Homo sapiens: one gene and its partner. The protein of the gene in region 1 purifies or fractionates together with the protein of each later gene. This does not show direct contact. Each region holds a gene or a part of one and is shown on either strand. Other genes may lie near its edges.

Region 1 (6,045 bases):
TTGGGGTCATGCCCCCTCAAGGCTAAGGTGCCTGGCAGGGTACGGCCCTTGGGGGTGGGCAGACAGACCTGGGCATCTGTGGTCCCTGAACTCAGGTCTGATATTGACACAGACGTGGGTGCTGCACAGACTCTCATCCACACATTGCACAGGCTCAGGCAGCCCGCCGTGCTCGGTTGCTTGTGGATAGCTGTGGGGTCGCTGGCCCATGCCCAGGCCCGGCTGGGCCCTGGGCTGATGGTTGGGTGGGAATTAGGTGAGGGGCCTGGGGCCTCTTTGGGACCCACCAGGCCCCCCATCCCCCTACTGCCCTTGTCCTTGGGGGGCCACTGTCCCCTCTGACCTCGGGTGTACGGCTGCTTCCTGTATGACCAGAAGGAGACTCTGCCCTTTTGGTTGGTGGTTTTCGAGAGTTACCAAGCGCAGCTGTTTTGCATCCTCTGGGGACCCTGCTCCCTTCTCGTGTCTCAAAGAGCCAGCCTCTGGGGCCACGGGGCTGCCCCGGCCATGAGAGGCTGCTGACGTGGTGTTTGCTGGGCCAGTGCTCAGGGCTTTGGTGCATGTGGGCAGCTGAGGCCTGGGTCAGGGGCACTGCACCTCGGCCCCTCTGCTCATCTTGGGCAGGTGACCCAGGTGGAGCTCAGGCCCGAGGTCTGTGCTGGGCCGTGGGTCCCCTTTTGACCGCCCCCCCGGCTCCGGACCCCAAGCCCCTCCTCGCTGACTGTTCCTCGGTCCCACCCGCAGGCCCCCCAAAGATGGCGGACAAGGTGGTCCCACGGCAGGTGGCCCGGCTGGGCCGCACTGTGCGGCTGCAGTGCCCAGTGGAGGGGGACCCGCCGCCGCTGACCATGTGGACCAAGGATGGCCGCACCATCCACAGCGGCTGGAGCCGCTTCCGCGTGCTGCCGCAGGGGCTGAAGGTGAAGCAGGTGGAGCGGGAGGATGCCGGCGTGTACGTGTGCAAGGCCACCAACGGCTTCGGCAGCCTGAGCGTCAACTACACCCTCGTCGTGCTGGGTTAGTCGCTGCTGCGGTCAGAGGTCATGGGCTGGGTTGGAGCCAGGCAGGGGTGTGCAGGAGGGCGGACGGGGACACACCTGGGGCCCGAGAGTCAGCCAGCCCCCGGCAGAAAGCCTTCCTTCGGTGCCCTGCCCCACCTCAGCTGGCTGCACCTCTGCCACCATCCCCCAGGTATCCTGTCCCGTTCCTGTCCCCGTCAGGCTCCAGCCTCGGAGCCTTCCTCCCAGCGGAGGGCGGAGGGTGGAGGGCGGGAGCCGAAGGCAGTGGTCCCACAGAAGGGCTGGGGCCCGAGGCCTTGGCAGGGTGTGCCGGCCGTCGGCTGTGACTTTGAGGCTCGGGTTTCGGAGTTCAGAGGAGCCGCCGGGATGCGTGGCCTTTCTGTTCTCTTCTGCGCCTGGGGCCCGGGCGCTGGGCTTGGACAGGTGTCCAGAGAGACACGCCCTCCATACCTAGGGACCCGGCACCCCGCCTGCTCCGCTGGGCTCCTGGGTGTGGGGCCCTCGGGTGGAGCTCCTGGGAGCTGGGCTGGCCCGTTTCTTTTTTTTTTTTAATTCTACTTTAAGTTTTAGGGTACATGTGCCCGTTTTCTGAATACAGGAGCCTGGCCCAGGCCCCAGCAGGGTCTGGGGGTGCGGCCTGAGACAGCCTGGTCCTGGGCTCAGTGAAGGAGCGGCTGTCACAGGGTGGATGGAGGGGACATTCCACAGCACGCCCTGCCCCTCGGCATTGTGTGGAATGGGAAAACTGGCTGTCCCCCACCCCCACCCCACAGTCCTTTCAAAGGGGACGATGACCGGGTGGTATGAGAGTCTCGTCTGTTCACCAGCCCTCGGCCCCTTGATGTAGGCTAGGGTTACTGCAGCTGCTGGCCGGGCCCGGCTCCCTCCTCCCCCGGGGCCTGCAGACCCCCCGGAGCCAGAATGGGGGCCGGCCCTCCAGCCCCACCCGTGCCCATCAGGGTCACCTGCGCCCAGTGTGGGCCAGCGGCCCTTGCCCAGCTGTCCCTGGGATTCTGGGCTGTGGGTGTGTGGCGCAGCCCCCTGCCTGGGTGTCCAGGGCTGTCCCGGCTGGGGCTGGGGGAGCTAGAGGCCACGGGGGAGTTGGGGGAGCTCCTCAGGGCCCCCCTCACCTGCCCTCCCTGTGCACCTCCGTCTCTCTGCAGATGACATTAGCCCAGGGAAGGAGAGCCTGGGGCCCGACAGCTCCTCTGGGGGTCAAGAGGACCCCGCCAGCCAGCAGTGGGGTGAGCAGGGGGTGACGGGGGTGGGGGGCGTCCGTCTGTCCCGGCCCCTTGGCTGCATCCCCGTCCTCTGACCTCCACGCCACCCCACCCCGCAGCACGACCGCGCTTCACACAGCCCTCCAAGATGAGGCGCCGGGTGATCGCACGGCCCGTGGGTAGCTCCGTGCGGCTCAAGTGCGTGGCCAGCGGGCACCCTCGGCCCGACATCACGTGGATGAAGGACGACCAGGCCTTGACGCGCCCAGAGGCCGCTGAGCCCAGGAAGAAGAAGTGGACACTGAGCCTGAAGAACCTGCGGCCGGAGGACAGCGGCAAATACACCTGCCGCGTGTCGAACCGCGCGGGCGCCATCAACGCCACCTACAAGGTGGATGTGATCCGTGAGTGTGGCCCCGGGCGCTGGCGGGCGGGGGGTGCTGGTGGGCGGGGGCGCTGGCGGGCGGGGGTGCTGGTGGGCGGGGGCGCTGGTGGGCGGGGGCACTGGCAGGGCTTGGGGGTGGTGGGCTGGGGGTGCTGGTGGGCCCAGGGTGCTGGCGGGGTAGAGTCCGGCGCGGCCCAGGAGCCATGCCCGCGTGCCACGTTCCCACAGAGCGGACCCGTTCCAAGCCCGTGCTCACAGGCACGCACCCCGTGAACACGACGGTGGACTTCGGGGGGACCACGTCCTTCCAGTGCAAGGTGCGCAGCGACGTGAAGCCGGTGATCCAGTGGCTGAAGCGCGTGGAGTACGGCGCCGAGGGCCGCCACAACTCCACCATCGATGTGGGCGGCCAGAAGTTTGTGGTGCTGCCCACGGGTGACGTGTGGTCGCGGCCCGACGGCTCCTACCTCAATAAGCTGCTCATCACCCGTGCCCGCCAGGACGATGCGGGCATGTACATCTGCCTTGGCGCCAACACCATGGGCTACAGCTTCCGCAGCGCCTTCCTCACCGTGCTGCCAGGTGCGCGGCTGCCACGCCACGCCACACCATGCTGGTGCCCGGACCCGCCCCCTGGGCCCGGCGTCCCACCCACCGGGTGGGGCCCCACCCTTCCCTCCCGGGCCGTGCTGGCCAGGTCATCTGCCGAGGGAGGGCAGCCCAGGGGCACCGTCTCCACAGCCCCTGGGATGGGTCTGGGGTGCTCTCCTGGTCTTTGTGTCGGCGTTCCCCTCCCTACCTCCTTTCCTCTCGCTCTTGCAGACCCAAAACCGCCAGGGCCACCTGTGGCCTCCTCGTCCTCGGCCACTAGCCTGCCGTGGCCCGTGGTCATCGGCATCCCAGCCGGCGCTGTCTTCATCCTGGGCACCCTGCTCCTGTGGCTTTGCCAGGCCCAGAAGAAGCCGTGCACCCCCGCGCCTGCCCCTCCCCTGCCTGGGCACCGCCCGCCGGGGACGGCCCGCGACCGCAGCGGAGACAAGGACCTTCCCTCGTTGGCCGCCCTCAGCGCTGGCCCTGGTGTGGGGCTGTGTGAGGAGCATGGGTCTCCGGCAGCCCCCCAGCACTTACTGGGCCCAGGCCCAGTTGCTGGCCCTAAGTTGTACCCCAAACTCTACACAGACATCCACACACACACACACACACACTCTCACACACACTCACACGTGGAGGGCAAGGTCCACCAGCACATCCACTATCAGTGCTAGACGGCACCGTATCTGCAGTGGGCACGGGGGGGCCGGCCAGACAGGCAGACTGGGAGGATGGAGGACGGAGCTGCAGACGAAGGCAGGGGACCCATGGCGAGGAGGAATGGCCAGCACCCCAGGCAGTCTGTGTGTGAGGCATAGCCCCTGGACACACACACACAGACACACACACTGCCTGGATGCATGTATGCACACACATGCGCGCACACGTGCTCCCTGAAGGCACACGTACGCACACACGCACATGCACAGATATGCCGCCTGGGCACACAGATAAGCTGCCCAAATGCACGCACACGCACAGAGACATGCCAGAACATACAAGGACATGCTGCCTGAACATACACACGCACACCCATGCGCAGATGTGCTGCCTGGACACACACACACACACGGATATGCTGTCTGGACGCACACACGTGCAGATATGGTATCCGGACACACACGTGCACAGATATGCTGCCTGGACACACAGATAATGCTGCCTTGACACACACATGCACGGATATTGCCTGGACACACACACACACACGTGTGCACAGATATGCTGTCTGGACACGCACACACATGCAGATATGCTGCCTGGACACACACTTCCAGACACACGTGCACAGGCGCAGATATGCTGCCTGGACACACGCAGATATGCTGTCTAGTCACACACACACGCAGACATGCTGTCCGGACACACACACGCATGCACAGATATGCTGTCCGGACACACACACGCACGCAGATATGCTGCCTGGACACACACACAGATAATGCTGCCTCAACACTCACACACGTGCAGATATTGCCTGGACACACACATGTGCACAGATATGCTGTCTGGACATGCACACACGTGCAGATATGCTGTCCGGATACACACGCACGCACACATGCAGATATGCTGCCTGGGCACACACTTCCGGACACACATGCACACACAGGTGCAGATATGCTGCCTGGACACACGCAGACTGACGTGCTTTTGGGAGGGTGTGCCGTGAAGCCTGCAGTACGTGTGCCGTGAGGCTCATAGTTGATGAGGGACTTTCCCTGCTCCACCGTCACTCCCCCAACTCTGCCCGCCTCTGTCCCCGCCTCAGTCCCCGCCTCCATCCCCGCCTCTGTCCCCTGGCCTTGGCGGCTATTTTTGCCACCTGCCTTGGGTGCCCAGGAGTCCCCTACTGCTGTGGGCTGGGGTTGGGGGCACAGCAGCCCCAAGCCTGAGAGGCTGGAGCCCATGGCTAGTGGCTCATCCCCACTGCATTCTCCCCCTGACACAGAGAAGGGGCCTTGGTATTTATATTTAAGAAATGAAGATAATATTAATAATGATGGAAGGAAGACTGGGTTGCAGGGACTGTGGTCTCTCCTGGGGCCCGGGACCCGCCTGGTCTTTCAGCCATGCTGATGACCACACCCCGTCCAGGCCAGACACCACCCCCCACCCCACTGTCGTGGTGGCCCCAGATCTCTGTAATTTTATGTAGAGTTTGAGCTGAAGCCCCGTATATTTAATTTATTTTGTTAAACATGAAAGTGCATCCTTTCCCTCCAGGCTGGTGTTTCTGCCCATGTCTACATGCACGTGTGCATGCTCGTGTGTGCTCACATTTGTGCCTGTGTGTCAGGCCTGGTCTCCAGAACCAGCAGCCTAACCCTCTTGGAGTCCCCTCGCTGGGCCAGAGCCACAGGGGCTGAGAACTGCACCTCCCGGCGGGAGAGTTTGGGTATACTGGGCTTCGGTGGTGTTGGGCGTGAGCACTGCCCACATGCCTGGCCAGGCCTGCGTCCTGCACCCCTGTCCCAGCGGCGCCCTCTCTGTGTCCTGGGGCTGGCACCTATGGCCCTCAGTGCAGGGCCTGGCCACTCCCCAGCCCCTCCTCAGGCTTTGGTGGGTGGCCCTACAGGAGGCAGCAGACTGGCCTCAGAGCTGGGGATGGGGCCAGGCTCAGGTCACCTCTGACCTCAGGGCTCCGTCCGAGTGCCCTCCCAGCCACCCTGCGGTGCTGCGACGGTGGCCGACCCCATCTTACCCGGTCAGCAGGAGGGGTGGGGCTGCCAGCTCCACCCGGGGCCCTTGCCTGCCGGGGGTTCCGTTAGCCTCGTAAGAAAAGGCACCGGGGCCCCTCGTGCATTCAGCAAAGCGTGAGGCCCACTGC
Region 2 (7,272 bases), on another chromosome or scaffold:
CCTCTGGCCGCCACCACACCTGGCTAATTTTTTTTTTTTTTTTTTTTTTTTTGTATTTTTAGTAGAGACAGGGTTTCACCATGTTGGCCAGTCTGGTCTCGAACTCCTGACCTCATGATCCGCCTGCCTCGGCCTCCCAAAGTGCTGGGATTACAGGCGTGAGCCACTGCACCCCACCACATTTTGGACTTTTTTTTTTTTTTTTTGAGACGGAGTCTCGCTCTGTCATCAGGCTACAATGCAGTGGCATGATCTCGGCTCTCTGCAACCTCCACCTCACAGGTTCAAGCGATTCTCCTACCTCAGCCTTCCGAGTAGCTGGTACTACAGGCGTGTGCTACCATGCCCAGCTAATTTTTTATATTTTTTTAGTAGAGACAGGGTTTCACCATGTTGGCCAGGATGGTCTCGATCTCTTGACCTTGTGATCAGCCCGCCTCGGCCTCCCAAAGTGCCGAGATTACAGGCGTGAGCCACCGTGCCCAGCCCACATCTTGGACTCTTAACAAAAATGCTGAAAAACCTGCACTGTGCTTGGCATAGGGCTGTGCTAGAGATTCAAAGATGAATCATGCAGGGTTCCAATCGTCAGCTCACCACCGAGTCCTGGAGTTACGCCACCACAAAGGCAGACAGTCTGGGGAGTAGGGGGTGTTGGCTGCTGACCCAGGACACCCAGCCCAGGATGGGGGCTGGCGCTGGTCCTGGACTGGCAATGAGCAGGTTCATAGGCAGGAAGTGGCGGAGAGCACAAAGTGGTGGCTGGAGACAGGCAGGATGGGGGCTCAAGGAGGTCGTATGCCCTGTTCCCCTAGAGCCCATGTGTGGACTGATCTTGCGGAGATTTTTGGCCCTGGTGTTCTACATACCTGTCTTCCTGTTTCACCAGGGCCCTTGTTTGCTAGTTACTGTCCCCGGCCCATGAGGTGCTGGCCTCCAGCAGAACCTCTCAGCCAGTCTCAGGGGCTTCCTGTGTGTCTCCCTGAGGCCGGCCCTTTTGGCTTCCTTCCCCCAGGGACTGCTGTGCGCCACTGTGATGAGCACAGGGGGTGGCTCCCCCCAAACCTCTTCAACTGCACGTCCATCACCTTCTCAGAACTGAAGGGCTTCGTAAGTGAACCCCCTCATCTCCATCTTTTCCCTGTCCTTCGTCCTGAGTCTCACTTGCCCCCACTCCCATCTTTGAGAACGGGGCTTCTGGAATTCCAGCCTGTGTGTTCCTGGGCTCCCAGCTGGAGAGGCCGTCTCTCACCTCCTGAGGTCCTTTTGCTCCAGAGTTCCTGCCCTCACTCCTGCTCCTCCGCTCCGTCCTGTCTAGGCTGAGCGGCTACAGCGGAATGAGTCAGGCCTAGACTCAGGGCGCTCCCAGCAGCTAGCCCTGCTCCTGCGCAACGCCACGCAGCACACAGCTGGCTACTTCGGCAGCGACGTCAAGGTGGCCTACCAGCTGGCCACGCGGCTGCTGGCCCACGAGAGCACCCAGCGGGGCTTTGGGCTGTCTGCCACACAGGACGTGCACTTCACTGAGGTGGGGCTTGGAGGATGCAGGGCTGGCTGGTTAGATAGGGGTCATGGTGAGTGAGCCTGCTCATGGCAACCTGGGGGGCAGAGGGGGCCCTCCCATCCCACCTACAAGGAGCTCCCTGCTGGCAGGAGGCCTCCATGAAACCCTGTGACCCCTGGCCCAGCCCTCTTCCCAACCCTTCTCATAGTAACATATGTGTGTTGGGGCATGGTCTGACCCAGAGCAGAGGCCTGCCTGTGGTACCATGGGCTGGGAGGAAGCAGTATCTCAGGACATGTGTGTGGGTCCAGGCACAGGGCTGGGAAGCTCTTATGTAGAGAATGAGGAGGAGGGCTTAGGGGCAGAGCATCCAGTGACCTGAGTGGGCAGTGCGGTCCAGGAGCATTTCAGGGGAGGCAACAGTGAGCACAGAGGGAGGGGCCTGGTGGGGAGCAGGGACTGGCCCGGGCACAGGCCGGGGCTCCATGGTGGGGATGTCAGGTGTGGGTTGTGAGCACACCCACCGTGACCTTGCCCACCCCAGAATCTGCTGCGGGTGGGCAGCGCCCTCCTGGACACAGCCAACAAGCGGCACTGGGAGCTGATCCAGCAGACAGAGGGTGGCACCGCCTGGCTGCTCCAGCACTATGAGGCCTACGCCAGTGCCCTGGCCCAGAACATGCGGCACACCTACCTAAGCCCCTTCACCATCGTCACGCCCAACATTGGTAAGGCTGGTGCCTGGGTTGGGGAGGGGTTTGTGGAGGGAGTCCCCGACAAGAGCGGCTGTGCTGGGGTCCTGCCTGCCTCACAGGTCCGATCTGTGACCATCCCCTTCCTTAGTCATCTCCGTAGTGCGCTTGGACAAAGGGAACTTTGCTGGGGCCAAGCTGCCCCGCTACGAGGCCCTGCGTGGGGAGCAGCCCCCGGACCTTGAGACAACAGTCATTCTGCCTGAGTCTGTCTTCAGAGGTCAGTGGTGGCCATGGATTGAGTTGGGAGCTGGACCCCAGTGTCTGTGCAGACTCCACAGAGAGCAGGGCCCAGCTAAGTGTGACAGTGTCCCCTCCCAGAGACGCCCCCCGTGGTCAGGCCCGCAGGCCCCGGAGAGGCCCAGGAGCCAGAGGAGCTGGCACGGCGACAGCGACGGCACCCGGAGCTGAGCCAGGGTGAGGCTGTGGCCAGCGTCATCATCTACCGCACCCTGGCCGGGCTACTGCCTCATAACTATGACCCTGACAAGCGCAGCTTGAGGTCAGCAGCTAGGGGACAGGTGTGGGTAGGGGTATGGGTCGGGCGGTGAGTGCTGAGGCATGGAGGGGGTCGGGGGCGTCTCCCCAGTCATGTGACTGCCGTGGTGACTGTGCACCTGACTGCCCCACATCAGAGTCCCCAAACGCCCGATCATCAACACACCCGTGGTGAGCATCAGCGTCCATGATGATGAGGAGCTTCTGCCCCGGGCCCTGGACAAACCCGTCACGGTGCAGTTCCGCCTGCTGGAGACAGAGGAGCGGACCAAGCCCATCTGTGTCTTCTGGAACCATTCAATCCTGTGAGCCTGCACTGCCCTCGCCCCCTCAGGCTTCGGGCTGAAAGTCCAGGCCCCTGCATGCCTCACCCTCCTTGTCTCCCTGACCCTGCCTTCCTCACACAGGGTCAGTGGCACAGGTGGCTGGTCGGCCAGAGGCTGTGAAGTCGTCTTCCGCAATGAGAGCCACGTCAGCTGCCAGTGCAACCACATGACGAGCTTCGCTGTGCTCATGGACGTTTCTCGGCGGGAGGTCGGGCCCACAGGGGCAGCTGCAGAGCCGTGGGTGGGCACCCAGGGCACGGGGCTGGGTGCTCAGGTCCTGCCCTTCCTAATTCCCTGGCCCCCTGCCACCTACTCTGCAGAATGGGGAGATCCTGCCACTGAAGACACTGACATACGTGGCTCTAGGTGTCACCTTGGCTGCCCTTCTGCTCACCTTCTTCTTCCTCACTCTCTTGCGTATCCTGCGCTCCAACCAACACGGCATCCGACGTAACCTGACAGCTGCCCTGGGCCTGGCTCAGCTGGTCTTCCTCCTGGGAATCAACCAGGCTGACCTCCCTGTAAGATGCTCCTACTGCCCAGAAACTGTCCCCACCTTCTCAGGCCGCCTCCCCAGCCCCCACTGGCAACCCCTGCTCCTGCACCATGAACTCTAATAAGGTGCCTAGTGCAGCACCTGGCCCAGGGTTTCCTCTTCTGTGGCTCCCCCGGGATCCCCCAGCACCTGCCTCTGGCCCAGGCTTCCCTGGAAGCAGTTCCCAACACCCAGGCCCTCCTCCATGCCTGACCCGAAGCAGAGCCTGTGCTCTGGGCGGGCCCCGGTCGCTGACCTGCCCTGGCCTGGGCCCTCAGTTTGCCTGCACAGTCATTGCCATCCTGCTGCACTTCCTGTACCTCTGCACCTTTTCCTGGGCTCTGCTGGAGGCCTTGCACCTGTACCGGGCACTCACTGAGGTGCGCGATGTCAACACCGGCCCCATGCGCTTCTACTACATGCTGGGCTGGGGCGTGCCTGCCTTCATCACAGGTACTCCCACCCATTCCCAGTCTTGGGGTCCCACATCCCTGGGTCCACCTTTGTGCCATGTTCTCTCCACCCACATACAGGCCCTGAGGCCCCACATCCCCATGCCCCAGGCCGCCTTATTCACAGGTGTCCCTCTGGTTTAACCCAGACTCTGCAGCCGCCACCCAGGCGTCACTCCCTTATCCTGGGGAGATCGGTAGGGGCCGATGGTGGGCAGAACCCTTTTCCATGCTTCATGCCTGGCCCTGTGAGCCCACCTGCCCGCAGCCCTACTTCCCAGGCCCCTCATCACCCCTCCACTGCTCCCGTCTGTCTCCATGCTCCAGGGCTAGCCGTGGGCCTGGACCCCGAGGGCTACGGGAACCCTGACTTCTGCTGGCTCTCCATCTATGACACGCTCATCTGGAGTTTTGCTGGCCCGGTGGCCTTTGCCGTCTCGGTGAGTGCTAGCAGGTGGGTTGGGTGTCACCTGTGGCCCTCCTTTGCTGTCCTCCTGCTGCTGGGGCCGCGTGTCCTCAGGACTCCCTTTAGGAACAGCTGAGGCCACGGGGCCCTGTGGGCTGGGTGGAAGCTGTTTGTCCCCACTGAGCACCCCATGCCCTCTGCCCCTGCCTAGATGAGTGTCTTCCTGTACATCCTGGCGGCCCGGGCCTCCTGTGCTGCCCAGCGGCAGGGCTTTGAGAAGAAAGGTCCTGTGTGAGTATAGGGTTGGGGTGCCTGGGCCATGGGCAGGCACCAGCATGGGAGGTCTCATGGCCGGACTCATGGCCTGTCCCTATCCCCAGCTCGGGCCTGCAGCCCTCCTTCGCCGTCCTCCTGCTGCTGAGCGCCACGTGGCTGCTGGCACTGCTCTCTGTCAACAGCGACACCCTCCTCTTCCACTACCTCTTTGCTACCTGCAATTGCATCCAGGTACCTGGCCCAGCCTGTGGAGAAGGGAGGCACCTGGGCTGTGGATGCCTGAATATGCACAGACCGTTGCTGCCTCTTGCCTGCCAGGGCCCCTTCATCTTCCTCTCCTATGTGGTGCTTAGCAAGGAGGTCCGGAAAGCACTCAAGCTTGCCTGCAGCCGCAAGCCCAGCCCTGACCCTGCTCTGACCACCAAGTCCACCCTGACCTCGGTGAGGGAGCCAGGGGTCTCAGGAGGGCGGTGAAGGGAGGGAGAGGCAGGAGGCCCAGTGAGCCTGTACTTTTGGCCCCACTCCCCTTTCTCTTTTCTCCATCCCTTCCTGGAAGGTGGAAGGGGAGGTGAAATGCTGTGTTCGGCCTGGGGAGGAGATGTTGGAAAGGGTGTGTAGGATTTTGACTTGAGGGAGATGGGGCTGAGACAGATAATCAGGTAATAAGTGCCTTGCACCTGAGAATCTCTCATGAATTTTAGTAAATTTTCTGTCTCCCAAGGTGCTCTCAGGAGACAATTTCTGGTCTCATCTTTTACAGAGCCATTATATAGTGAGTCCAGGATCCCTGGGGGCATGCAGGGGTAGCACAGCTGTGGCAGAGCTGTGACCACTGCCAGGCCTCAATATGGGGACAGCGGAGAAGCAGGGCCCTCTCTTTCAGACCTGAGCATGTGGAAGGTGGAACTTAGGGCAAGTTCCCTCCACCCTCCTTCTTCCCAGCCTGGGGCCAGCCATCCCACTCCCCACTTACTGACCTCTCTGTTCCCTGCCTAGTCCTACAACTGCCCCAGCCCCTACGCAGATGGGCGGCTGTACCAGCCCTACGGAGACTCGGCCGGCTCTCTGCACAGCACCAGTCGCTCGGGCAAGAGTCAGCCCAGCTACATCCCCTTCTTGCTGAGGTGAATCCCGGAGATGGGAGGGTGGAGGAGGGGAGGAGGGGCCCACGCATGCTGGACCCAGGCCAGCCAGCTGTTGGGAGTTGAGGAGCACACACTGTGGCTGACGTGGGGGCCAGCTTGGATTAGAAGCTGTAAGGGACCCACAGCAGGAACCAGGATCCCAGGGGAGAGGAGAGACTGGGACCCTGGGCAAGGGGCCAGGCTGACCCCTCCAGCATGGTCTCATCTTCCTAGGGAGGAGTCCGCACTGAACCCTGGCCAAGGGCCCCCTGGCCTGGGGGATCCAGGCAGCCTGTTCCTGGAAGGTCAAGACCAGCAGCATGGTGAGGACAGAACGCTCTGGCCACCCAGCAGGGCAGTTGGCTGGCTTTTACTGAAGGTGGGTGGAGGTGGCTGGGCTGGCTGTGATCTCTCCCTGGCCTCCTAGATCCTGACACGGACTCCGACAGTGACCTGTCCTTAGAAGACGACCAGAGTGGCTCCTATGCCTCTACCCACTCATCAGACAGTGAGGAGGAAGAAGAGGAGGAGGAAGAGGAGGCCGCCTTCCCTGGAGAGCAGGGCTGGGATAGCCTGCTGGGGCCTGGAGCAGAGAGACTGCCCCTGCACAGTACTCCCAAGGGTGGGCCAGCACTGGGGCTGTGGCCTTTGGGGCCAGTGGGAGGACAGTGGGCCTGGGGTTCTTGGGAAGCAGGACTGGGGTGGTGGCCTCCTGGCTATCTGCCCTCTGTGGGCCTCATCTACTTCCTTTCCCCACCAGATGGGGGCCCAGGGCCTGGCAAGGCCCCCTGGCCAGGAGACTTTGGGACCACAGCAAAAGAGAGTAGTGGCAACGGGGCCCCTGAGGAGCGGCTGCGGGAGAATGGAGATGCCCTGTCTCGAGAGGGGTCCCTAGGCCCCCTTCCAGGCTCTTCTGCCCAGCCTCACAAAGGTGAGTGGGGCACCCCCAGCTGCCGAGCTCCCCTAGTCAGCAGCCTCATACCTCACATTCTCCTGTGGCCGCACCTCACAGCCCCGCCCCGGCCCACAGGCATCCTTAAGAAGAAGTGTCTGCCCACCATCAGCGAGAAGAGCAGCCTCCTGCGGCTCCCCCTGGAGCAATGCACAGGGTCTTCCCGGGGCTCCTCCGCTAGTGAGGGCAGCCGGGGAGGCCCCCCTCCCCGCCCACCGCCCCGGCAGAGCCTCCAGGAGCAGCTGAACGGGGTCATGCCCATCGCCATGAGCATCAAGGCAGGCACGGTGGATGAGGACTCGTCAGGCTCCGAGTGAGTGTGGCCGGGTGGGCGGGACGGGGTGCAGCCCCTCGGAGGCCTCACCTGGGCCCAGAGCTGCCTCCGGGCCTCCCCAGGTGACTCTGGATGGCATTTGGAGGACAAATGGGCAGAACTGGCCCAGCTCC

What was found.
Region 2: the proteins of FGFRL1 (region 1) and CELSR2 purify together in Homo sapiens (affinity purification with mass spectrometry; 2 studies listed by BioGRID and IntAct, with this or other methods). This does not show direct contact.

The regions. Positions count from the first base shown.
Region 1 is NC_000004.12:1,021,459-1,027,503, forward strand, and holds the end of FGFRL1 (fibroblast growth factor receptor-like 1 precursor), read left to right. Parts: intron 1-744; coding exon 745-1,017; intron 1,018-2,182; coding exon 2,183-2,263; intron 2,264-2,358; coding exon 2,359-2,643; intron 2,644-2,852; coding exon 2,853-3,206; intron 3,207-3,446; coding exon 3,447-3,889; 3' UTR 3,890-5,440; downstream 5,441-6,045. UniProt on the Homo sapiens protein: Has a negative effect on cell proliferation.
Region 2 is NC_000001.11:109,266,533-109,273,804, forward strand, and holds part of CELSR2 (cadherin EGF LAG seven-pass G-type receptor 2 precursor), read left to right. Parts: intron 1-1,015; coding exon 1,016-1,110; intron 1,111-1,318; coding exon 1,319-1,528; intron 1,529-2,048; coding exon 2,049-2,232; intron 2,233-2,347; coding exon 2,348-2,476; intron 2,477-2,577; coding exon 2,578-2,758; intron 2,759-2,891; coding exon 2,892-3,059; intron 3,060-3,161; coding exon 3,162-3,288; intron 3,289-3,400; coding exon 3,401-3,601; intron 3,602-3,893; coding exon 3,894-4,068; intron 4,069-4,394; coding exon 4,395-4,507; intron 4,508-4,684; coding exon 4,685-4,764; intron 4,765-4,853; coding exon 4,854-4,980; intron 4,981-5,067; coding exon 5,068-5,190; intron 5,191-5,745; coding exon 5,746-5,873; intron 5,874-6,107; coding exon 6,108-6,196; intron 6,197-6,300; coding exon 6,301-6,495; intron 6,496-6,633; coding exon 6,634-6,804; intron 6,805-6,903; coding exon 6,904-7,138; intron 7,139-7,272. UniProt on the Homo sapiens protein: Receptor that may have an important role in cell/cell signaling during nervous system formation.